Regions from separate parts of the Homo sapiens genome. Here region 1 is linked to region 2. The links come from fine-mapping of genetic effects on gene expression. A gene starts in region 2. The other region holds a variant in brackets. All regions are shown on one strand. Distances are between the middles of the regions.

Region 1 (12,389 bases), 38 kb before region 2:
GTCATACAGCATTCGCCTTTCTGTGGCTGGCTTATTTCTTAGCATAATGGCCTCAAGTTTGCAGCATGGGTCAGGGGTGCCTGTCATTTAACTCTTCTTCTTCCTGACTGTGAACTAGTTGTGGGACCATGCATTCTGTTTCTCTTTTTCTTAAATTGTCCTCAGGAAAATTAAAATGCTGGGAAAAGTCAAAAGGAAAATGAAAACTTATATTGAAATGCTTTTTGACTCAGGTAGAAGTCGAAGTGAGGGACCCTGAAGGTTTTCTCCCAAATTAGGAAGCCGTCAGGATGAATAGATGGTAAATATAGAAACGGTGACTCAAATAGAAGAGTGACATCAGAATGGAAAACTTCCAAAGAAAGCATGAAAAGAATTAGGATGTTTACATAGAACTAATTTGTTGGGGAATAACACACAAGCAAAGACGAAGACAAAGACAAACTTTTGTGCAATCTTGGGGAAGAGTGAGAGTGAACACTCATCAGTGTCCCTTGGCTTTCTGATTGCTCCTTTTGGAGGTGCACAACCTGGTCTTTGGGCAACTTTAGCATCTCCCTTCATTTCTACAGCTTCCATCAAGAAGTCAGGCCTACCCTCATTAACTCACAGTTGCCTTTGTAATTAAACTCAGGCACGTGCTCATTCACTCACTACTCTTTTGCATCAAAATTCCTTATAGGATACATGGATTTTATTAAGTAATCTTTTTATTCACAGTATCTGGCTTGGAGTCAGCAGTATTCATTCAATGAATGAATGAACTCACTTTTATGAGGAGAACCACCTCAACTAAAGACAAGCATTTAAAAATTTATACTCTGAATTCAACTTTCACTCAATTCTACTATCATCTCCCCTAATGTGCCCTTTATTCATATGGCAATAGTGGAGTGGTGCCATATGTGGACTCTATCACGTGGCCTGAATTGAAGTTCATTACACACTTAGTAGCCATATGCCTTTAATCTCTGTACCTTATGCTACTCATCTGTGAAGTGGGGGTATTAATCGCACCTACTTTGCTTTGGGCAGCATTTCCAGTGGTGGTCTTCCACTCACATCTCTAGGGTTAGCAACTGCTTCCACTGTCAGTTGCTAATCTCTGGGTTACTCCACCACGACATCGTGCATGACTTTTCAGCTCTTCCGTGGCTCTTGTAACTAATTCCCCATATCAGATTCCCCGTTTTTCTTAACTGATAGAGCTATTATTACTATCATTTATCATTACCTTTGGAGTCTCATAATCACTTTCCAAAGACTCCTACTTTCTCCCCCACAAAAATCTCCTATTTCTGTACTCATAAGTACAGTTGTCTGTTGGCAGAAAAATATTCTTTGATGTTTTGCTGCATGTTTGGGGACATGTGGAAAAGCTCCTGAGTGACCTGCCATTGTTTTCTCCCTTCCTGAACTCCCAGGAAGACTGCCTCATCACCTGAAATTTTGTTTGTTTTGATGTCAGGGCTAAAATGTGCTCAAAAAAGACTGCTGCCCCTTTTTGGCCACGTCCAGGCCAGGCTTATGGTCACCGTGTGCTCCCAGACCCCCACCACTTTGGCAGGGAAGCCTTAAGACTCTGACCTCACTGCTCACAGTCACTCTGCTTCCACTCACTCAGTGTGAGATAAGAGAAGATTCAAGTACCGTCATGTATCACTGAACCATGGGTATATGTTCTGAGAAATGTGACATTCGGCAATTTTGCCATTGTGTGAAGGTCATAGAATGTATTCACACAAACTCACATAGTATAGCCTACTACACACCCAGTGGTCCCCAATCTTTTTGGCACCGGAGACCAGTTTCATGAGGGTGGGGATGGGGAAGGTTTTGGCATGAAACCGTTCAACCTCAGATCATCAGGCATTAGATTCTCATAAGGAGTGTGCAACCTAGATTTCTGGCATGCACAGTTCACGAAGGATTTGTGCCCCTGTGAGAATCAAATGCCGTTGCTGATCTGACAGGAAGTGGAGCTCAGGTGGTAATGATTGCTCACCTGCCACTCATCTCCTGCTGTGGGGCCCGGTTCCTAAAAGGCTAGGGACCAGTACTGTTCCCAAAAGGCCAGAGACCATGGCATGTTACTGTATTGAATAATGTAGGCAGTTGTAACACTGTGGTAAGTATTTGTGTATCTAAACGTAGAAAATACTACACATAGTATTTGTGTATCTAAACATTGTGTACAGTAAAAATAGGATATGAAGGATTAAAAAATGGTGCACCTGTATAGGGCATTTACCATGAATGGAGCTTGCAGGACTGGAAGTTGCTCTGGATGAGTCAGTGAGTGAGTGATTAGTGAATGTGAAAGCCTAAGACATTACTACACACTACTATAGCCTTCATAAACACTGTACACTTAGGCTACACTACATTTATTAAAAATATTTTTCTTTAATAATAAAGTAACCTTAGCTTACTGTAACTTTTTTACTTTATAATTTTTTTTAATTTTGACTCATACATTAGCCCATACATTATACATACATTACATTAGCCTAGGCCTACACAGGGTCAGGATCATCAATATCACTATCTTCCATCTCCACATCTTGTCCCACTGGAAGTTCTTCAGGGGCAATAACAGGCAGGAGCTGTCATCTCCTATGATAACAATGCCTTCTTCTGGATACCTCCTGAAAGACCTGCCTGAGGCATTTTTACAGTTAACCTTTTTTTAATATATATAAGTAAAGGAGTACACTCTAAAATAATGATAAAAAGTATAGTATAAATACATAAAGCAGTGACTTCGTTGTTTTTTATTACTGTAAAGTATCATGTGCTGTACATAATTGTATGTACTTTACTTTTATGTGATTGGCAGTGCAGTAGGTTTGTTTACACCAACATCACCACAAACACATCAGTAATGTGTTGCACTACAACATTATGACTGCTATGACATCACTAGGTGATAGGAATTTTTTAGTTCCATTATAATCTTAAGGAACCACCATCTGTGTGGTCCATCATTGACTGAAACATTGTTATGTGGCTCATGACTGTGACTGTATGTCCTTTCCTCTAGCAGGCTCTCCTCCCCTTGCTCCTCTGCTTCACCCTGTCCTGTGGTGTGAAGTGGTCACCTTGGATTCAGGACTGGGAGAGTGGCAGGGCCAGCCCTAGAGTGAGCCCGGAGAGGTGCCCTCCTCCCAGGGGTGTGCAATGCAGGGGTAGCTTCAGAGGGAGCAGCTCCTTGCATTTTACATAATAGGCTCTTCTCTTGCCTCACACCAGTCCCTCCCCCAGTCCCTCCCCAGTAGACTGGCCTTTTCCACCGAAATGACAACAAAAAACCTGGAATGTCAGGGTTGGAGAATGCCTTTAAGTCATGTGACGCCAGTTTCTCTAAGTGTGGTCCATGGAGCACCTACAGGAGACTTAGCAGAGTCTAAACTGCAGATTCCTGGGCCCAGGCCCAGACCTACAGATTGAGAATCTTTGGGAGGTGGTACAGGAATCTGCATTTCAATAAAGAATCTCTGGCACTTCTTATAAATCAGCAGCTGAGAACTTCTACTGCTAGGTGCTTGCTTACAATACAGACACACAACAGCCTCACAAAGCAGCCTGCTTCAGGTCTAAGAAGGCCACTGTTACAAAGTTTATGACATGGGGCACAATTCAGCCTTCTTGTAACTTCATTCTATCTCAGATCTGGCCGTCTGCAATGACTCGGAATCAATTTAATCCCTTTTCTACGTGGCAGTCCTGAAGTCCATAGGGCACCTCTCATTACCTCAGCCCACTTTGAGTACCTTCACACTCTTTCCTAAGCAGCCGCTGTTCGGTCCACCCTTTCTCGTGTGCCACCAACATGCAGGGAGGGCAAGGGGTGAGAAGGGGCTCGCACCAGAACTAAGTCCCTAGGTTTAGTGCCTAAGGGACTGAAATGAAATGTTTCCCGCGGGAATTCCTAACTCCAAGGGGTCGGCCATGTTTCCACAGCTCCCAGGGTCGCTCTGCTGCCCCCCTGCGGGCCTGGGGAACACTGCAGGGGTATGAGCCGGCGGTGGGGCTGCTCTCCCCACACGTGGGAGTGGGAAATGGAGAGAACCCGCCCCTTAGAGGAAAAGCCACGAGTTGCTGTTGTGCTGCAGGAGAGAAAGGGAGAAAGAAAGCGTGCGACAGGGAGTGGGAGCCCCAAGTCAAGAGGAGCCCCACAGAGGCAGCCCTGGACTTCGGGACCACAGAGGTGCTGAGTGCTGCCCGATTCTGGATCCCACTCTGCTTAGCTCAGGTGAGTCCGGCAACCCTGGGCAGCCTGTGAAGTTGGAGAGACAGTCCTAGCAGAGGGTTTCTTGAAATCATTCTTAGGAAGATGCCAATGTGCTGATTATGCTTCCTGGAAAGAAAATGACTACATTGTGGAAGTGCTTTTCTTAATTGTGTGGAGGGAACGAAAACAATCTTCACTGAGTCTAAGGGAGATGGGTTTTCTGGAGAAGAGAACAATCGTAAAGGAATAATTAACTGCAGGGCGAAGGCAAGTTGTGTGGGACTCTTAGAAACAACCTACCGGCTGCAGGACAGCGAGTGGGGACCACAGGCATCACCTCCATGTCTTACCTATTGGGGCTGTGAGCAAGTGGCTTTGACTTGGTCATTTTAAAGGGGTGGTAGAGCTCAAAGGAAGTGCATTTTTCATTTCCTAGGAGCCAAACAATGAAGGCATCCTAGGGAGGTTGTGGAATGACTCTGAGACACAGTAGGTATGCGATAACCTCCACTGAATTCATGCATTCGGGCATGGTTAGGAGAGAAAACAGCACAGGTTACACAGAGAGCTACAGATAAGAAAGGACTGTGTCCTGAGCACCCGAAATGTTTGTTGAAAATATTCAACAATACTAGTTAACATCTGCTTTGAAGGAACAGGTATGGGGATGGTTAATGTCTAATATTCAATGTTATTCAAAACCAAGAGTGAGTTGGTCCTCACAGCTGATTTAGGAATAAATAGTTTAATTTACCAAGCCAATCAGTAAAAACACAATCATATATATATATGTGTGTGTGTCTACACATACACACATATATATACATATATATATGTTTACTGTTGATTCATGACACAACTCAGAGGTTAACAAAAGTAGAATTTTACAAATTTGAACTCTAAAACTGGGAATGTTAGACAGACATAGAAAGTTTCTCAGACCTAGTCCTATTGACATTTTGGAGCAGATAAGTGTTGTTGGGGACTGCCCTGCTCCTTGGAGGATGTTTTTCAGTATCTCTGGTCTCTTTATCGACAGCCCTGCTCCAGCCATGACTATTAAAAATGTCTCCACATATTGCCAAATGTGCCTTGGGGATCAGATCACCTCTGGTTGAGAACCACTGAGATATATCAATTGGACTGAAAATTGAAAATGCATTGAGCATATCATTTGGCAATTATTATTGATTAATTCCCATCGTGCCCTTTATTATCACTCAGCTGCTAGGAGAGGAAGCAGCAGGGGCTATTATCACTGCCCTTCTAGGTGCAGAGGCAGGTGTGAGACACACAGTCCTATCACAGCATGCCCAAGGATAGACTTGTAAGTCACTGTTTGTTCACACTGGAGAGAAGGCACTGCCCGGCCTGTTACCCCAATCTCTTCCTGTTTCAGATTTCTAACAAATAAGAAAACTTTCTATCAAATAAGAAAAAATGTACGTTTTCTTAGTAGAAGATATAGAAGGTATAGAAATTGACTAAAATCTGTGTCATTACAGATTTTAGTCAATCATTTAATGGATTGCATTGACATGAATCCATCATTAGTATGTATTTGCTCTATTGGGCATCTCTTGCTGTTGAGGGACCCTCTTTTGGAAGAGCTGCCGCTTCAAAGGGCTCCAAGG[A/G]ACGTGCAGTTTTTTGTGAGTTGTTCAAGTCCCCACCATAATAGTGAATAGGTCTTTTGTAGTGTATTTGAATCTGCAAATTCACACAGTGAATTCTGTGAATCAAAAAGCAGATTCACTGCTATTTTCTCAAATTGCAGCTTTCTTTGTGGGCTTCCTCTGAATTGAAATAAATCCATATCTTGGGTCATAAAAACCAAATCACAAGGGGGAACATACAACTGGGAAATAAGCCTAGAAAGAATTGGCAAAATATCACTGGCAATCAAAAATGTAAATTAAAATAATTAATTTCCACTTTTGCCTATGAGAGTAATAAAAATGCATTAGTCTTTCAGCCACCCAGTGCTGGTTAGGTGTGGTGAAACTGCCACTCTCATATTGCTGGTGGCACTGGAAATGGATACAGCTCATTTATAAGTCAATTTTACCTCAAATCCAAAAAGTTGCTTATGCTTTTTAATTACATAACTATTCCAAGAGATCTACGTGTGCATGAAACAAAGCACTTTTCATGGAGAGAAATGTCTCTTAGGATTACTTGAGTGAAAAGTAAATATCCAACAAGAAGATATAGAGAAATATAGTTTGATATAGCGTACTCTGTGAAATATAATTCAGCTGTGAAAATGAGAGTTCTGAAGACCAAATGGTAACAGAAAGAATGCTTATGTCAAAATGTGATGTGTTCACTTAATGTGCCTGATTATTGCAACCATGTAAAATGTGTGTACATGCACATATGCATATGTATATATGCATATACTTAAAAGCTCCAAAATACTAACAGTTGGGCTGGAAGTTCTGCAGTTGTTTATAATGACTAATGATTTTCTTTTCTCCTTGATCTAATTTTTCTGTGAATTCGCTTTTGTAATTTTTAAAGAAAGTATTCCAAAAGAGAAAAATCTTGCCTACCACCATCACATCATCTCTCTTCTTTTTGTGTCTGCTCCCTGGTGGACTTACTCCTTTTCTGCTTATCTATCTCCTACATGCTACTTTTTAAAAATCTCTGGACTTTTGGAAAGCAAACTACTTTTCATTTCAAATAATACTTCTTGAATTTTAAGAGGTTTTAAAAAGAAGTTTAAAATTATAATGGTAAAACCTGCTAATGGGGGAAAAGGCAAGGCAATATTTGGGTATAAAGTGGAAATGAAAATACTACCCACGCCTGCCTGCGGCACATTCCTCCCTACCCCTACCCCAGCCCCAGTGGCCCCATATCCCTGTACCTGCCTTCATAGGGAACAGTTATTCACAGTGGTTTAGTGTTTATGCTGCTGATCTTTTTCTATGTGTTTACGTAGATCTACAGACATTATTACATGCACGAGGTCATATGATGTGTGTGTGTGTGTGTTTAACATTTTATTCCTTGTAAGGGAAGTTGAACACAATATGCAAAGTTTGTCGGCCAGCATTTGAGACTGTACCTGGGAATTCTGTCTTCCCTTTCGGGCTGGATGCCAAAGCTGAGTTCTACTGCCACTGCTACCTGTCTCTTAGGGAACATTCTTTAAGGCGTGACAGAATTCACAGCACATCATTCTTTTTTTAGTTCTCATCCATCTTGCCAGTTTATGAAAATAACAAGCTTGAAAGAATAAGAGTCTCCTCATTTATAAAATGGATCTAATACCTGCGACTTGTGTTGGTGTGTTCTATTGGCTGCCACCTCTTGTGGTCTGATATTATCAATAAAGATATCACTGTTTTTCAAATTGATGTTTCTACCTTATTTGCAGTTAGTGGCTAAAGGGATCAGCCAATTTAGGACATTTGCATTAAAAAATGTATATGCAGCTCTATTACTTTTTGTGGTGAAACATTGTTCTTCAGGATTCACAGGAGATTAAAGCGTGACCTCTTACCCCAGGGAATGGCCCAAGGTAGAAATGTCTTGTTATAATGTGACACAGACCCATCTCGTTAGTTTCTGCAAAGCTGCTGTGGATTTGAAGACTGGAATGTCTTAGTTTGTAGGCGCTGATAGAAACCGTTCAACACATTTCAAAGGAAGTTTGTAAATCAGTGGCGACTCCACCAGGCAAGTGTAAAGAGATGGCTCTTGTGTCTCCTCCCTCTGTTCTATCCCTTCTGTGATCCAGGAGAAAAATGCTGTGGTTCGTGGCTGGAAGATGTGAAGTACACACTCTCCCTGTTATGTGAAGTGCACCCTCTGTTTTCCCTAAGAAGGGTGAGGAAAGGAACCGACCTTCCGGGCCTTTAGGAGCCGTGATGGGCCATGGCCCCTTTAGATAACTGGGCTTATCACTGGATCCAGGAGGGTTGTTTTTCCAGGCAGGGTTTTAAGTGGCTTAGCTTCTGTGACACCCGTGTGGCAATCAACCTCATGAAGTGTGGACATCAACAATAAATCTGTAATTCATACAGTAGCCATTTGTCCATGGCTTGGGGCCTACTTGTTATGTAACAAACGGATGTGCACCTGGCAAACCCCATTGGGCCAGAGAACTGGTCTCATTTCACCTTGATCGGTAGAATCCCGAGTCAAAGGATGTGGAAGGAGGCTGTGGTTTCCTCAGGGCTGTGGTGTTCCTGATTTTCTGTGTATAAGGACATCACAGCCACAGTTTTTGCAAGAACATTGTGGGGGAAAATGGAGCCTTGTGAAGAGACATTTGAATAGTAGTTCATAGAATTATTCATTAAACATTACTGAAGACCTACTGCATGCCAGGGAGACAGACTCATGCGCATCCCCCACAATTGCTTCCAGGAGAACAGTGGGCAGGGAGCCTGCGTCAGGAGGCAGAAACAGCAGAGGGACCCCTGGAATCCAAAGCGCTGCCTTTGGGATTCCCAGGGATTGGGGGGTCAGAAAACCTTGGGTGCTCAGCCCTGCCACTCTGTGTCCCATCATCTCACTGCAGTCAAAACTGTCAAAGTCCGTTCTGGTTAACAGAGAGTAGGCACCTCAAGTTTGGCAGATTTTAAGACACCTGGATTCCAATCTGGCTGTGTGATCTTGGGCAAGTCCTTCACTTTTCTGACCCTCAGTTTCTTCATCTGTAAAATGGGGATAAGAATCTTTGCCTGGTTAAATAGGATCAAGCATGACAGGACTGACCAGGGAGGCACCGTGACCTCCTTGCTTAATCCCTGACTCACTTTGGGAAGCCTCTCCTTTCCAGGTTTCTTCCCCTTTATTGCTCTGGGGTGAAGTGGAGAGATTGTGGGCTTTGAAGGCACAAAGTCCAGGTTTCAGATAGAGTCTCGGAGGCCTCATTTCAAACCCCAGTTCTACCACTTACTAGCTGGGTGACTTTGAGCAAACAAATTGATCTGAATCTTGGTTTTCTCTGTAAAATGGGGCATACGAACTGAGGAGACTAAATTAGGTAACATGTGGAAGACCTTGGCAGGGCGCTGGTGATATGCCTCTGGTTGGGGACTGACTATCTCTGGTCACACTGCTTCCTGCCATAAAGGTCCTGTTGACATAAAGCCAAGTTTTGAGCATGACATGTCCTAGAAGGACAGTGATGGGAAATAAGAACCCCGAGTCTCAGCCCAACCACCGTGCTTGTGTGCTAGCAGTGGATCAGCTGCAGAGAGAAGCTGCGGGCTGCATGGCTCCTGCCTGCAGGCCCATGCTGACGCTGGCGGTGGAGTGACTTGCCTGCTATGAGCCACAGCTCTGGTCAAAGCAAGCTCTCCTTCTGTCATCATGACCATCTCTGTCCTCAGACCACAAATCTTCCCCATCACGGCCTGTTCCCCCTGCCCTAAGCCCTAGTTCACCCAGGAGGGCCTGCAGGTAGTGCTGCTAAAATGCTGTGGTCCCTTGGTTTGCAAACCCCTGCAGTATGAGGAACAAGGACCTTGTTAAATCGTGCTTTTAAATGGAGCCGCGGCTACTCTGGACAGGTTCCTGGGGAGACTTTTGTATGAAGTAAGGATGCCTGCCCCAGATCCCGCCTGGATCAGCCAGCCCCCATGGAGGCCTTACTCCCAAGCAATGACGTGGTGGGAAGTGGTGGAACTACGCACACCCAGCCTCAGGAACAAAGTGACTCCCTTCCTCTCCTAGTGTCTTTACGGGGCTACCTCATTTCACCGGGCAGGAAAATTTGCCGTCTTGATGAGCTGGAGTTTTTTTGTGGATTTAAAATGTATATGGCTGTTTCTTCCAAGGAAGGGAAGCCCTTTCTCACAGTGTCAACCAACTTGCTCAGACCACAGCAGGTCCACAGGGGAGCCGGGGTGGTGCTCCAGGCCGCTCGGGTCTCCACCCAGGCTGCTCTGGTCAAGTCCATGGTTCCTCTTCCGCTTGGACCCTGGGGAGTGCAGCAGCTGCGTCAGGAAGTGAGGGCGCCCTTGCTCTGTACCTGGAGCCATACCTGGATCAAGTTTGGGTTCTGCCAGTTGCCAGCTCTGGCCTTAGGGTGAATCTTAAGCTCTCAGGGTCTCTAAGGCGCCATCTGTAAAACAGAGTCAGTAACACTTCCCAGATAGGATTGTTGTGGGATTAAATATGAGATGACCTATTTAAAGAGTTAACACAACGCCTGGCTGCAGCCATTGCTCAGCAAGTGAGAGCTGTTACCATCTCCCCCTCCAGGCCTGTGTCTTCCTGGCTGGTATCACTGGGCAAGCCTCTTAACCTCTCTGAGCTTGGTTCTCTCATTTGTGGAATAGGGGGTCTTTTTCTCAGCCCCGCTAACCACTAACAAGGCCACACCTGACACTGGCACCCAGGCCACCCGGGCTGACTGAGACCACCCTGCAGGCCACCACTGACATGCACAGAGAGGGTTGGTTATTGGTGCTGAGTAAATCCTTCCACCATCCTTTCTAATGAATTATTTTTGATCCTCAGAACTTTGTCAGCGAGCAAGAACAATGCCAGGAGGTCTGGAGAAAACGTGTCATCAGTGCATTTCTAAAATCGCCAGCAATGGTGAGTCACAACTCTGAGAAATGCCCTGGTTTTGTAGGATTGAGACCTCTGGGATCACCCGATGAGCTAAAGCTGGAGTGGATCATATGAGTGGGCTGTGCTTGGTATGGGGTGGCCCCAGGGTGGTAGAGCTGGGGAAGACAGTGTCCGGCCCTCGGTTGGCTGCTTTCTCCTTCCATTCCTTACCAATTCATCTTTAGTTTTCCATAGTTCACTGTATGTGTTTTCCATGTAATATGTGTTTGAAAAATATGCATGTGAACGGAGTCACTGCTACAATCAGTGTATGATGGCAGCCGTGCTGGGCAACACGGCAGGGCAATGTGACACCTTGGACCTGGGTAGCTTTCCCTTACTCCTACCTCAACCTGTCTCCTTACTAAATTGGATATTCCCCCACTATCACCTGCTGGGGTCCTTTCTGTCCAGAGGGGCTGGACCATATTACAGAAGACCCAGTCTGTCTTGTGTTTGGAATATCCCAAAATCAGATCCCAGGCCTTGGGGGTCCCTGGGATGAAAGCTTTTACATCATGGTGAGATGTATGGTCTAACTTTTACAGATGAAATGTGGATAAAGGGAACATTGTGGGAAGCCTTAAGCAACTCATCTCCAGGCACTAATATCAGGAAGCTGCAGTCAGTGGGTAGTGGCGGACTAAGGTGGAGGGTCAGCAGAACAAGGGGCTGACAGATGGGTGCCTGGGCACCTTTCCTTACCTGTACTTACCATGTCCTAGCACACACTGTCCACCTCCCACTTCTCCTCCCATGACGTTTCCTGCACTGCTGCATGCCAGCACCTCCAGCAGTGCCTGACACACAGTAGGAGCTCAATAAATAGGCACTGGCTGACTAAGCAGGTAAATGAGTGAAGAGCCACCTCCCAGATACAACTGACCTTCTCCATTCGCTGATGGGCCCAGTGCCCATCTCATTCTCCTAACGCACAGCCCTGACATTTTACTCCCAGGGACAGCTCTAAGGGCCACCCTCCTTTCATCCCTGGAGCACACCTACTGCTGTGAGGGCCAGAGTGGGACAGTGGTGCTGGAGTCTCTGCCCAGGGCCTCTGATGCTCTGGCAGGATGAAAACTCATAGGTTTACTGCCGGCAGGGAAAGGAGACACCATCAGCTATATTGTTGCTCTACATCTTCGGGAAATTAGTTACCACCACCTCCCCCAACACACATCCTACCTGTTTATGCAACAGAAGTGCTGATGGCAACACCAGGTTGGCAAGAGAGGAAGTATCATGCTCAGGGTTTCCCAGAAAAAGGGATGTTTCCTGGCTGCACTGTAAATCTGCAGGTCAAGGTCTAGGCCAACCTTGGCCTAATGATGGCCTCCTTGATTGTTGAGATTTCTGCCCTTGTTGTATGAATAACTCCGTCTTCAGCCAGCACAATGGCAAGGCCTCCTAAGTGTTCTTGCTGCCTCTTGCCCATCCCCTCAGCACCTCCTCTGGGGAGGTCCTTCACTGCACAGTGACTCCCCATTCCTGCAGAATAAAACAGAAGCGTTTGCTCTCTTGTGAAACCCTTTGTGATTGAGTCCCCGTTTACCTCTTGAATCACTCTTTCTTCTTC
Region 2 (12,389 bases):
CCTGTACCTTCCCATAGCCATCAAAAAGAAAACAGAAAAGAAAAACATTTCCTACATCAATTTACAGTTTATACATTTGTTTATAAGGAAGCCAGTTTGGGTTCGATTCCCAAGTCACTGGGGAAAGGGGTTGAAGCCCAGATTCCCCTGGGATCCCTTCTGGCAGCCCAGCGTCCCCTCCCGCCCCCAGCAGCAGGTGCTGGCGCTAATGGCGCACACCTGCACCCTTTTGTGGGGGCCGCCTTGGTTGACTGGAGCCAGCTGGAGCCTGAGAGTTCTCCCCGCTCCCAGTTCACCCCACCGACAGCCATAGCTAAGGGCTGAGTCGGGGAAGAGGGAGGAAAAGCCCAACTCCCTTGTTTCAGGGCAGGTCAAACTTGAGGCATTTATGCACCAGAGCTGCCCGCGGGATCAGGTGAAAGCAGGGCTTCGTGGAAAGCCACATCCTTTCCCAGCGCTTCCCTTTCCCCAGTGCTTCCTCCCTTACCCTAGTTCGTTTCTCCCAAGGCCACACCCTCAACACATCCCTTATCCCAGAGCTTCATCTCAGACTCTGCTTCCAGGGAAGCCGGCCTAAGCCAGGGTTATTTCTCCACAGCTGGAGGCATGACATAAATTACTAGTATATCCCCTTTTACAACCCTTTTTATTTTCCTAAAATGACAATTTTAAAGCTTTATTTTTATTATAAAAGTGATACATGCTATGGCTAGAGATTCAAATCGTGTAAACGAGTATGAGGTAAAAAGTAAAAGATTTGAAGCACCCCCCCAACTCCCGGTCCCCAAAAAGGTACCCAGTGTTAATTCTGTAGTATCCTTTTGGAATATGTCTATGTATCGTTAAGCATAAATATAGGTACTTTTTACCTACATTATGTCGGACTAGGCTGGGCGTGGTGGCTCATGCCTGTAATCCCAGCATTTAGGTAGGCCAAGGTGGGCGGATCACGAGGTCGGGAGATTGAGACCATCCTGGCTAACATGGTGAAACCCTGTCTCTACTAAAAATACAAAAATTAGCTGGGTGTGGTGGCGTGTGCCTGTAGTCCCAGCTACTTGGGAGGCTGAGGCAGGAGAATCGCCTGAACCCGGGAGGCGGAGGTTGCAGTGAGCCGAGATGGCACCACTGCACTCCAGCCTGGGCAACAGAGCGAGACTCCGTCTCAAAAAAAAAAAGAAAAGAAAAAAAAATTATGTCAGACTATTCATATTATTTGACAAGCTGCATTTTTCTATTTCCTGGATCATGGATTTCTTTCCATTACCAGCGCAGAGCTCTGCCTCAAACACGACTAATATGTATTCATAGGACTTATTTTAAGAGGCTCATCCTCTGTAACTTGCCTGGTCTCTCATTTCTGTGAATCAAAATGGGAAAAGCAGTAATGTGAAACTGTATTTTGACAAATGAACAGCTGAGAGGTCAGTTTGAGAAACTGTTTGCCATTCCTCCTGTCGTGTACCTAAGTAGGCCCCTGGCTGAACTGGGCTCCTAGGGAAGTTCGTTGCAGGGCCTTTGGATTAGGCACATGATGCACCTGAGGGAGACTCACCTGGACGCGACGACTCATCGAGCTCCTGAGAGGAGAGAGGTTGATTAGGGTGGATGCTATTCTCTATGTTCCCCAGGAGTGTGAGAGTCAACAAAATCCCACCATCACCAAGGAAACCATTAAAAAATCCCAGCACTTTGGGAGGCCGAGGCAGGCGGATTACGAGGTCAGGAGATGGAGACGATCCTGGCTAACTTAAAAGTATAAAAAATTGGTCAGGCGTGGTGGTGGGCACCGGTAGTCCCAGCTACTCGGGAGGCTGAGGCAGGAGAATGGCGTGAACCCGGGAGGCGTAGCTTGCAGTGAACCGAGATCACGCCACTGCACTCCAGCCTGGGCGACAGAGCAAGACTCCGTCTCAAAAAAAAAAAAATCAAAGCCACCTACTTAAGGACCAAACTATCCTTCCAATATCGTGTGATTGTGTGAATACCTACAACTGAGATATATTCGGCAACAGATACAAGACGGAAGCAACACCTGAATATTGCAGAAGGTATAAAATGTATGTTGTTACATAACAAAAATTAATAATGTACCACAATGAGGTGCAATCTCATACGCATCAGGATGGATGCCATTAAATAAAAAAAGGAACGAACTCTGAAGATAACAAGTTGGTAAGAATGCGGTGAGCCGGAGCCCTTGTGCAATACTGGTGGGAACATAACGTGGCACAGCAGCTATGGAAAACAGTAGGGAAGGTCCCCCCAAAATTAAAAATAAAATTGCCATATCACCCAGCAATTCCACTTCTGGGTATACACACAAAAGAACTGAAATCAGAGTCTTAAAGAGGTATTTGCACACCAATGTTCATATTAATATTATTCACAATAGCCAAGAAATTGAAGCAATCCAAGTGTCCATCTATGGATGAATGGATAAACAAAATGTGGTTTATACACACAATGGAACACTATGCAGCCCTAAAAAAGAAGGAAATTCTGAAACTTGCTACAACATGGATGAACCTGGAGGACATGTTGCTAACTGAAATGAGCCATCCACAAAAAGGCAAAGTGTGATTCTACTTAGATGAGGTCCCTAGAGTAGTCAAATTCATAGGGATAGAAAGTAGAATGGTGGTTACCAGGGGCTGGGGAAGGGGGCAATGAGGAGTTCTTGTTTAATGGATACAGAGTTTCAGTTTAATAAGATGAAAAAGTTCTGAAGATGGATCGTTGCGCGGCAATGTAAATGTACTTAATATTGAACTGTACACTTAAAAATGGTTAAAATGGTAAATTTTATGTTGTGTGTATTTTACCATAGTCAAAAATAAAAATAAGTAATGTATTCCTCAGTCCTCCCAAGCCTCCACAGTCGCTCAATATTAAATAGCTGGCCAGTGCGGGGTCATTTGGTCATTGTCTGCATATGCAGGGCCAGGCTGCAAACCCAGTCTCACTCTTAGTGACTGCAGTGCTCAGCATCCAGCTCTGAGTGCCACTGGCTTAGGGGTTTGGGAGTGGGAGGAATCCTGGTAGAAAAAACTGTGGGAATTATAAGCTACCCTGTCACACCCAAGAACAAATCAACCAACCGAAAAAGGGGAGGGGACAGTAGTGGAAATTTCCAGTCCCACAGAAGTTACTAAAAGAAGAAATGAGGAGACACCACCATGGGACATGTCCCTCGTCCTTACAGAGAAGGGGTTAAGCATGTGGCATCTGGACCCAGACCGTCAGGCTGGGATCCTGGCTCTGCCCCTTTCCAGATGCGTGTGATCTTGGATGTGCCACTGAAACTCTCTGTGCCTCGTTTTCATTGGTAAGGAGATTAAAACAGTGCTTGGCACATAGTAGGTAGAGCATTTGTTAAATAAGAGAAAATTTTCTTTATTTCACTCTCATTACAATGCTGTGAGGACTGTACAGTTATGCTCCTCTGTAGAGGGGAAACTGAGGCTCACGGAGGTAAAGTGTCTTTTCTGAAGATGCCTCAGAGCTGAATGTGGGCCTTCTGACTCTCTATCCCAGTTCTCACCTTGCGTCTGCATCCCTCTCCCGCCTGTGTAGGTGGCCCTTCTCCTGAGGCCAGAGGTGGGTACAAGGTGGTACAGAGTGTGGGTAGGGCAAGCTACAACCACCTCACCAAGCAGCCTGCATGCCCTCGCGCTACTCCTGCCCCAGGCACCACTAGAGAAAGCCCACGGCTTTTGCACTCAGAACAGAACTTGCTTGCCGTAAAACCGAAGCCCTAGAAGCAGGCTGCATGAGAGTTTAAGACGAACACGAGTCCCGTTTGTGGAAAATCACTTTCTCCATCAACTTGGCTACATGGAGACTGACCACCCTGGCTTCACTACTGCCCCACTTTGGGCCCATCTCACTGCCAATGTCTGCAGTCCTTGGAGGGTGCACAGGGCTGGGGAAAGTAGATCTCTGCATGTTTTAAATCTAAGTAAGTGATTCATGCACATGGTACAAAATTCAATGGCACAGAAGGCATTCAATGTAAACTGAGTCTGTCTCCCGCCTCGGCTCCCCACTGCCAAAGTTCTGGCCAGAGGCCCACATTGTGATTAGCTTCTTGTGAAAGGAAGGAAACCCCTAAATCCAATTGATTTGTTAGGTAGGAAGTTGGTTCAGATGGGCAACAGACAGCCCTGGGTCAAGCCAGTCTGTAAAGGATGATGGGCACCGAGGGACATGGGGAGGCAGCTGGAAGGGCCTTTCTACACGGTGACTGTGTCAGCTGCGGAGTGGGGAGGAGGGTGGGCTGGTATCTACCACATACCTCTTCCCTGTGCTGCTGCTCTCTTCTGCTAGGAGTGAATGCCAGAAAGCAGTCGCCTTGGGTTTCTGATAAGGCTTTTGTGATTGAGGCTGGGATCCCATGACCCGCCCCCCACTTCTTGTCATTAGGAAGAGCCCAGTTCCTTAATCCATGTACAGGTAGGGTCAGCACCTGTGCATGGTCCACACTGAAAAATAAGGATCAGCATCAGAGACCTTCTTCTCCGCTCTCTGCCTCATCCTCTCTTCCTTTTTGTTCCTTTCCCTTCGCTGTCATTTCCATTCCCCACCCCCAATTGTACACTAAACATGTACATGAATGGTGCCTAGCTTCCTATGAGTTTATGACTTATGGTTATTCATCTTAATAACTAAGTGGCTTTGCCAGGTAAAATATTAAGGCACCATTGCCATTATGACCTTGTCTTCCATGATCTCATTGGCAGCTGGTGTTGCCATGACAACTTGGCTAGAGGAACTGGTATGAGCTTCAGTGGAAGGCGATATGAACACTGGTTGTGTGTGTGTGTGTGTGTGTATATGTGTGTAAGAGAATACAGACTTCTCATCATGTGTATCTGTTGTGCAGAAAGCCATGGGTTTCCACACCTTCTGCTTCTCCTTCCATTTTGGTCAAAATTAGCCTCAGGGATCTAAATCAATTGGAATGGAACTCTGGGGGATGATTTCTTTGTTTGGCTTTTTGAGTGGCAAATTGGAACCAGGAACACAGAAGAAATATTTTAGTGGCTTTCCACCCCTGGGAAATGAAGCAACCCTATCCACTTTGACGTTTCTCTTAAAAGCACCCTGGGCCTAACTTATTTAGCATCCATATGTAATTTTCTTAGTAGATGTATAGAAAGTTGGAGCTGAAAGGAGCCCTGGGTGGCGCCTAGTCTGGCCCCCTTTCTGTTCAGATGAGAAAAACTGAGGCCCAGAGGCTAAGTGACTTGCCCCCATTTAGTATGATGCAGCAGGGAAGGTGTGGGCTCTGGAATCATACTACCTGGTCTCAAAGCCTGGCTCCACCATGTATTTACTGTGACCTGAGTCAAGTTATGTAACCTCTCTCAGTTTGCTCATCTGTAAAATGGGGATAATAGCAGGAGTAACCATATGGATCAGTGTGAGAATTAAGTGCTATAATCCACAATGCTTGGCACACTTTAAGCCTTCTATACATTTTATCACATGGGTCACACAGGGAATAACTGGCAGAAATTGGACTAGAATCCAGCTCAGCTGACTCCAGTTAAACGGGAACATTCCCTTGTGAACTCCATACTGCCCTTTGTTTGTGTGTGTGTGTTACTTGGCATCCAGGTGAGAGTGGAAGCTCATTTTGAGACAGGGTTTGGCTTTTCCTAAGACCTCCTCTTTAAATGTATATAATGTATACACTAACTACCTCGTGGATGCTTGATTTGAGGCTAACACTGGACACCTCATGCCCTCATGGAAATTTCTTGAATGTACACTGCATGGCTGTAAGCGCAGGGGAAAAAGGAATGAGAAGAAAACTTAAGGAGGGAAACCAACACTTCTGATCACTTTGTATGAAACTAAGCTCTTTATAATGAATGCCTTTAATCACAACCACCCCACGAGGTGCGCATATTCATTCCCATTTTACATATTAAGAAACCAAGACTGAGGGTGTATGCAGCATGCTCAGGTTCACCTGGCTAATGCAGAGAGCTGGGTTTGCAGCCACACTTTTACTTCAAGGGGCTGCTGACACCCTCCAAGAGACTTGGTGGTTCAAAACTATTTCTCATCCCCTCTCTGCGAGCCAAAAGCCTATTTCCTGAGGTGTTCAGAGAGATTCAGAGCAGATTGACACCTTTTCCATCACTGACACAAAGAGGAGGGTATAAAAAACAGTATGTAGCCCTGGGGATCTAAAATATTTTCCCAGCCAAATCGGACAGGCATTGAAAGTCACACAGGCTGGGGTGGTTTTACAAAATGCCACTTGTTTAAATTTCCTTTCATCACTCTGTCAGGAATAACAGCAACGTAGTGGAGCCTCAGAGTCCTGTTGAGAGGGGCGAGCTGTTCCGGGGAAATTTATTTCAAAAGTTATTCTGAAGTAAAAACTTGCCCACTGTGGAGTGAGGTTGGACAGTGATCCTATATCCTAGGTAATGAGGCTATTAAAGCAGCTGGTCTCTTCAGCTTATGTAAGTGGGGCCCAGTCTCTGGGCGACTTGGGTAAACCGGTATAGAATTTAACAGGGTGACTAGGAGTGACAGCAGCAGTAAGACCCCCATTTCTAATGTGGCGTTAGGGCTGGAGGTTAGATGTGGACAGGGGTGTCTGAGTCCTACATAATGGGGCTGGATGACTAGTCTGAGATCTGGGTTCACGCAGCAACCACACTCTTTTTTACTCACACTGTTCATCTGGGCTTGGGTGGAAAGAGGCTGATGAGGATTTGGGGGAAATCAAGGGGCTCTCCCTGGCATTGCATGAAGTCGCAGAACCAGTGGCAAAAGTCCAACTTTGGAGACAATTACTTCTCGGGTGGGAGCCCCAGCCCTGCCTCTTGCCTGCGATGTCGCCAATCTGACTGCGCTTGCTGGAGACGGGAAATGTGGCACGGCACTGCATCCCCCAACACGTGTAGAAACTTAGAGAATGCCAGTTATTAAAATAACCCTTATGATAACACCAATTCGATGCAGAAGTCTTTTAAATATCATAAGCCTCGTCGTTTTATTCCACATGGTTTTCTAGGTAACCAAATTCTAGGAGGTGCGTTGCAGGGCCATCTTCGCATCCCGGCCATGCCCAGCAGGACGGTGTTCTCTAAACGGCGCTGATGCCCGATTTCGACCCCGAGGAGACTGCGGACCTCGACTGCGGCCCCCACCAGGGCCGGTCCGCCCTCACTCCACCCTCTGAGGCTGGGGCGGAGTCGACCGGCCGGCCCCGAGACCCCTTGCCTTACCGGTGGAGCAAGGAACCGGAAGCCGCGGCTCTTACATAACCGGGATGATGTCAGGGCGGGCGACTCCCGGGGGGCGGGACCAGGGCGGAGGCCGCGCCGGGAGCGCGGTGGGGCTAGGCGTGGGGCGCTCCCGGCATGTCCCTGTACCGCAGCGTCGTGTGGTTCGCCAAGGGGCTGCGCGAGTACACCAAGTAAGGCGGCGCGGCGGGGCGCGGGGCCCCGGGCTGTCACGTGGCCCGCCTCGGCGCGGGCGAGCAGGGTTGGCGGGGACGCGCCCGCGGCTCCTTCGCCCTCTCGCTGGGCCGACTAAGCGTGTCCAGAACGACGGGTGCGCCCGCCGTCTAGCGACCCACGGCTGGGCGTGGGGCAGTCGCCAGACTCCAGCCGCTCAATGCCCGCGACCGAGACTGGCGCCCGAGGGGCGGGGCTGTGGCGCGCCCAAGCCCAGGGCCGTCCCACTGACGTCAGGCGGCCCCGGCGCCAAGGAGCCTCTTGGGCGGCACCTCGGCGCCCCGCTGGGTGTGCTCGTGGAAGTGTCTTCGTGGTGCTGCTGGCGGCGTCAGATAGGGCTGGATCTAAATCGCTAGCTAAGGCTCTGTCCTAGTGCCTTTGGGTGTGTTTCCTTTAAAAAGATGCAGCACCTGGACTGCGACCTTTGGCTCCAGCTGGAACTTTCCAGCCAGTGTGTGCTTCTGGGGAACGGTGCGTGGTGGTTTCGTCGCCCCGTGACCACGCTCAGTGTGCCCTAGTTGGCTCTCCACCTCATTGTGGTTTTAAGAGGTGACAGGTTCCTGTGACGGAGGAGAGATGGAGGTTTTCTCTTAGAATTGATTAGGCTAACCGCTGGTTCTCAACCCTGTCTGCACATCAGAATCACTGGGCGAGAATTAAAAGTACCCAGTTTTCAGGCCCCATCCCTACAGATTCTGATTTAGTGGATCTGCACAGGGGCCTGGACTGGCATTTCATCCAAATGCCCCAGGTGATTCTCACCTCTGAGAGGCTTCTCCCTGCACTGGGGCTTTATCAGTTCCCACGGCAACCTGGCCAGCACTCCTAGGGGAGGTAGGAGTTGCAACTCCCTGCTCTTCACCCCACATCGTTTTGGAGAAGGTTCAGCTCTGTCTCAGGAGCCCCTGCTGCAGAGAATGGTGGGGAGTGTAGTCGTGAGCCCTGTCCCACAGTTTTTAGGGGAATACAGTGGCAGCCTCTTTCTTTCAAAGGGGTGTCCTCTGGCAATGACCATTAATTGCTGGATCTTTCCACATTACACAGCATGAAAGCTTAAGTCAGTTTCCAACCAGGGGTGGGCCCCAAGGAAAGCAGACTGTAAAAATTTCTCCCAGGACTCTTTCGCTCTGATTTCCCCACCTTGAGGGAAGGTAGAAGTGAGGCCAAGGGGCCCAATCCACCACAGATTGGTGGGGGAAGGGAGGGGAGGGGAAGGCAGTTGGCAAAGTTAGATGGGTTTTCCTGCTGTTGTGGATTTAGTGAATAGGAGAGAAAAACAACAACCTTGTTTTGACTTCAGTGTGAGAGCGCGGAGTTAGAGTTTACAACGTTTCTCTTGGCACAAGGATTTTTATAAAGCCTCCCTATATTGGGCTCCTAAGGCAGGAGGATCTAATCACTGTTTCCTAAACTTTGCTGAACCTAATAATTCCCTGGGGCAGTTTTAAACAGACTCCTAAACCCTGGGCAAGTGTGGATGGGTCCTAAGCAAATTTCATATTTGGGTAAATTGAGGGTGTGGGGAGACACAGATACCTGCCAGCTTCCTCCTCCCCATCCCTGTCACCTCAGCTTCAGGAAACAGTAAGTACAAATGTCCTCTCAGCTTGAGTCAAAATCACTGGCAAGGCACATGAAACCACAGGTTGCCAAGCAATCACTTCTGAGTCAGTAGGCAGGGCATTTCCAACAGGTTTCCAGATGATGCTGATGCAGCTTGTCTGGGGACTGCCCTTTGGCACCGAGGCTGGGTGTTGAAGAAGATCACCTACCTTCTGGTGACCTTGGGAAAGTCGTGTGTGTGTGTGTGTGTGTGTGTGTGTGTGTGTGTGTGTGTGTGTGTGAAAAATAGAGACTGATATCTAGAGACTGATTTCTAGAGTGAAAATAAAATGCTTCCCCAATAAGGGGCAGAGTACATAAAAGACAAGTCTTATTAACAACAGATCGGACCAGGATGGAATTCTTGTATGGAAGGCAAGATCCAAGGCAGAGGACAGAGGGCGGGGACATGTCCTGCAGGCCAGGCTGGTACTGCCCGCTTGGCAGCACTCCCAGTCTGGAGTTTGAGGAAGAGGTTCAACCCAGAGGAGCCAGCCTCAGCAAACATTCGTCTCTAATACGGATCAGTGTGGAGCCCAGAGGCTAATGTCCCCTCTGACTGGGTATCACAGAGAAAAGCCTGTCAGCTTCCTGCCCCTGGAGAAGGGCTCTTCAGGCCTGTTCCCTGTGGACTGCTTTTTTTCTGGCTCTATTGTATTTGGGAAGTTCTCACTCATTCCCCACAATGCCTCCTCCTAGCTAAGCCCCTATTCATTGACTCAGGCCCTTGCCTCTACCGGAAAAGCCTTTCACAGAGATTCCAGGGCTCACGTCTGTGTTTAGGGGGAAAAAAATCTTCCAGTTTCCTCTTTGTAGTTTAAAATGCTCTCAAAGTCCCTACTGATTTGAAGGCTTGGGGGCCAAATGAGCTCAAGTGTGAACATGGACGGTACTGTCATTATTAATAGTGATAATAATAATGTCACCTGGGTGCGGTGGCTTATGCCTGTAATCCCAGCATTTTGGGAAGCCAAGGTGGGTGGATCACCTGAGGTCAGGTGTTCGAGACCAGCATGGCCAACATGGTGAAAACCCATCTCTACTAAAAAATACAAAAATTAGCCGGGTGTGGTGACGGGCGCTTATAACCCCAGCTACTCAGGAGGCTGAGACAGGAGAATCACTTGAACCCGGGAGGCGGAGGTTGCAGTGAGCCGAGATCGCGCCACTGCACTCCATCCTGGGCGACAGGGTGGGACTCTGTCTCAAAAAATAATAATGTCAGCTGCTAATTATTGAGCTCCTAATATGTTCCAAGTGCTGTCATAAGTGCCTTAGATGCGGCATCTCATTTAGGCTGCCCAAGAGGTATCTCTTATTATTCCCTTTCTGCAGATGAGGAGATAAGAGCTCAGAAAGGTTAAATCAACACACAAGATGGCACAGCTAGTAAGAGGCTGAGCTGTGACTTAAACCCAGGTTGTTCAAGCCCTTGTTACTGATATTTTTAAGTTTCAAGTCAACCTTTTTGGGAAGGCTTTGGAATAAGAAGTCTTGCTTGCCACTCACAGCAGAAGCAATGGGTAGGGTGTTCTCTAAGCTGCCCTGCATGTTCTGGTGAGTTACAGATGGTGAAAACAGGAACATTTTTCTTGTTCTCTTAAGAACATCTGGCTTGACTGAAACAAGTGGCAATGCCTGCCCCGTGGCAATGACTTTCAAACCAAACCCAAGCTCATAAACATCCTTTGGCCACTTCCCCGAGTTCCAGAGCATGTAACTGGCAGTTGTGCTGTACCAGGGCATGGGGCAGGAGGCCAGCTGTTGGCTACCCTTTTGTAAACAGGTCCTGTGGGAGGGCTCTCAGCATCTGTGGAGCCTTGAGATCAGAGTCCCATCCTGCATTGCCCAGGAGAAATCTCTCGGCTCCGTAGGTGAGAGATGTAAGCTCTGAGACCCCAGCCTGCCTGTGCGTGGGCAGAGTCTGCCCTCTGGGCCTCCACCTGCCAACCCCACCATTCTGCCACCACTGCCCTTAGCCAATTTCATAGCCAGGAAATACTAGAAGAGTAAAGGTAGAGAGGTATCGCAAAAGGAATGGGAAAAAGAAACAGTTAAAGAACTCACAATTGCATCTATCCAATATGATGCCTTTGTGCAAATCAGAAAAAATACCTCTTCTGCAATATGCTTTTCTGCCACCTGCCAGAACATTATCATAATGCAGATACAAATATCCCATCATTCTGATCCGAATGGCACTCCCTAGAGCTGTGCAGTGCACACCTTGTGTCCCTGAAGGAGCCTTGGCTTCCTCTGATGGGTGCAGAGCTTAAATAACTCTACCATCCTCCTCCTTTATTCCCTACTTGCAAATCTCCCCCGTTTCTCCAAGTAGGCAAGGATATCTGTCCTGCAATGCAATAAGCACAATGCAAATGGTCTCCTAAGCTTCCTGAAACCTGCCCCCCACAAAAGGGAAAAGAGCAATTCATCTGTCAAGGGATTTTTTTTCTTTTTGCCACTCCCCAGGATCGGGGCAGTCAGAGGAAGACAATTTGGATGCCAAAATGTTGGAATCTCCAATATTTTCAAAAGTTTGGAAAGATCATGGTCCAGGAAATGCAGGCCCCGAGATAGTGGTGTTTGTGAGAGCAGGGAGGGCAAGGGAGAAAGGAGTTTCGTGATGTGTTGGGAGAGGCGGAGACAGCAATAATGCCCATCCTAGAATTAGGCTTTCTCCTGCAGGGGTTTGTGTTCCCCACTCCTTACAGCTGGTCTTCCTGTGGGTCTCCTCTTTCTAGGAGTGGCTATGAATCTGCATGTAAAGACTTTGTCCCTCATGACTTGGAGGTCCAGATTCCTGGAAGAGTCTTTTTGGTCACTGGAGGAAACAGCGGCATTGGCAAAGCAACTGCCCTTGAAATCGCCAAGCGAGGTAAGCAGCTGCTAACACGTGTGTCCACTGAGCCCCACGGCCAGACTGCGGCCGGTCCACACTGAGGAGGGCACCCTGTGTCACAGGCAGGCCAGGAAGTCCTGGACGGCGATCCCATGGTTCTGGGCACAGCTGCCAGCTTTCTGAGTTTTGAGCTCCAGGTGGCTAGAGCAACAGGAGCCCTTTCCTCAACACTTAATTAATTCTCAGGCGAGCTTGGGGTCCTGCCCACGTGTCCCAGTGTTTTCTGATTAAGAACAGCGAGGGGCTCAAGCAAACCCTGGACATCAGAATCCCCAGTGGAATTTAATTAAAAAAACAAAAACAAAAACATGAACACCTGGTCTCTAACTCATGTCTTCTCAATGAGACTCTCCTGGGGTGAGAGACAAGGGGAGGGGGAGCCTCAAAGTCCACTGCAATTT

What was found.
Region 1: its variant is fine-mapped to the expression of DHRS12 in whole blood (INTERVAL, PIP above 0.99).

The regions. Positions count from the first base shown.
Region 1 is chr13:51,836,882-51,849,270 of GRCh38, reverse strand. It overlaps TMEM272 (transmembrane protein 272), which reads left to right and starts at 4,094. Exons shown (of 5, transcript NM_001351003.2): 1 at 4,094-4,255; 2 at 10,718-10,798. The coding sequence starts at 10,741. RefSeq lists an enhancer at 1-93. The variant A/G (reference allele first, on the strand shown) is at 5,869.
Region 2 is chr13:51,799,109-51,811,497 of GRCh38, reverse strand. It overlaps DHRS12 (dehydrogenase/reductase 12), which reads left to right and starts at 7,335. Exons shown (of 9, transcript NM_001377533.1): 1 at 7,335-7,444; 2 at 11,831-11,964. The coding sequence starts at 11,839. It overlaps LOC107984561 (a long non-coding RNA gene), which reads right to left and starts at 7,662. Exons shown (of 2, transcript XR_007063805.1): 1 at 6,697-7,662. RefSeq lists enhancers at 6,455-6,584, 8,970-9,019 and a silencer at 7,135-7,774.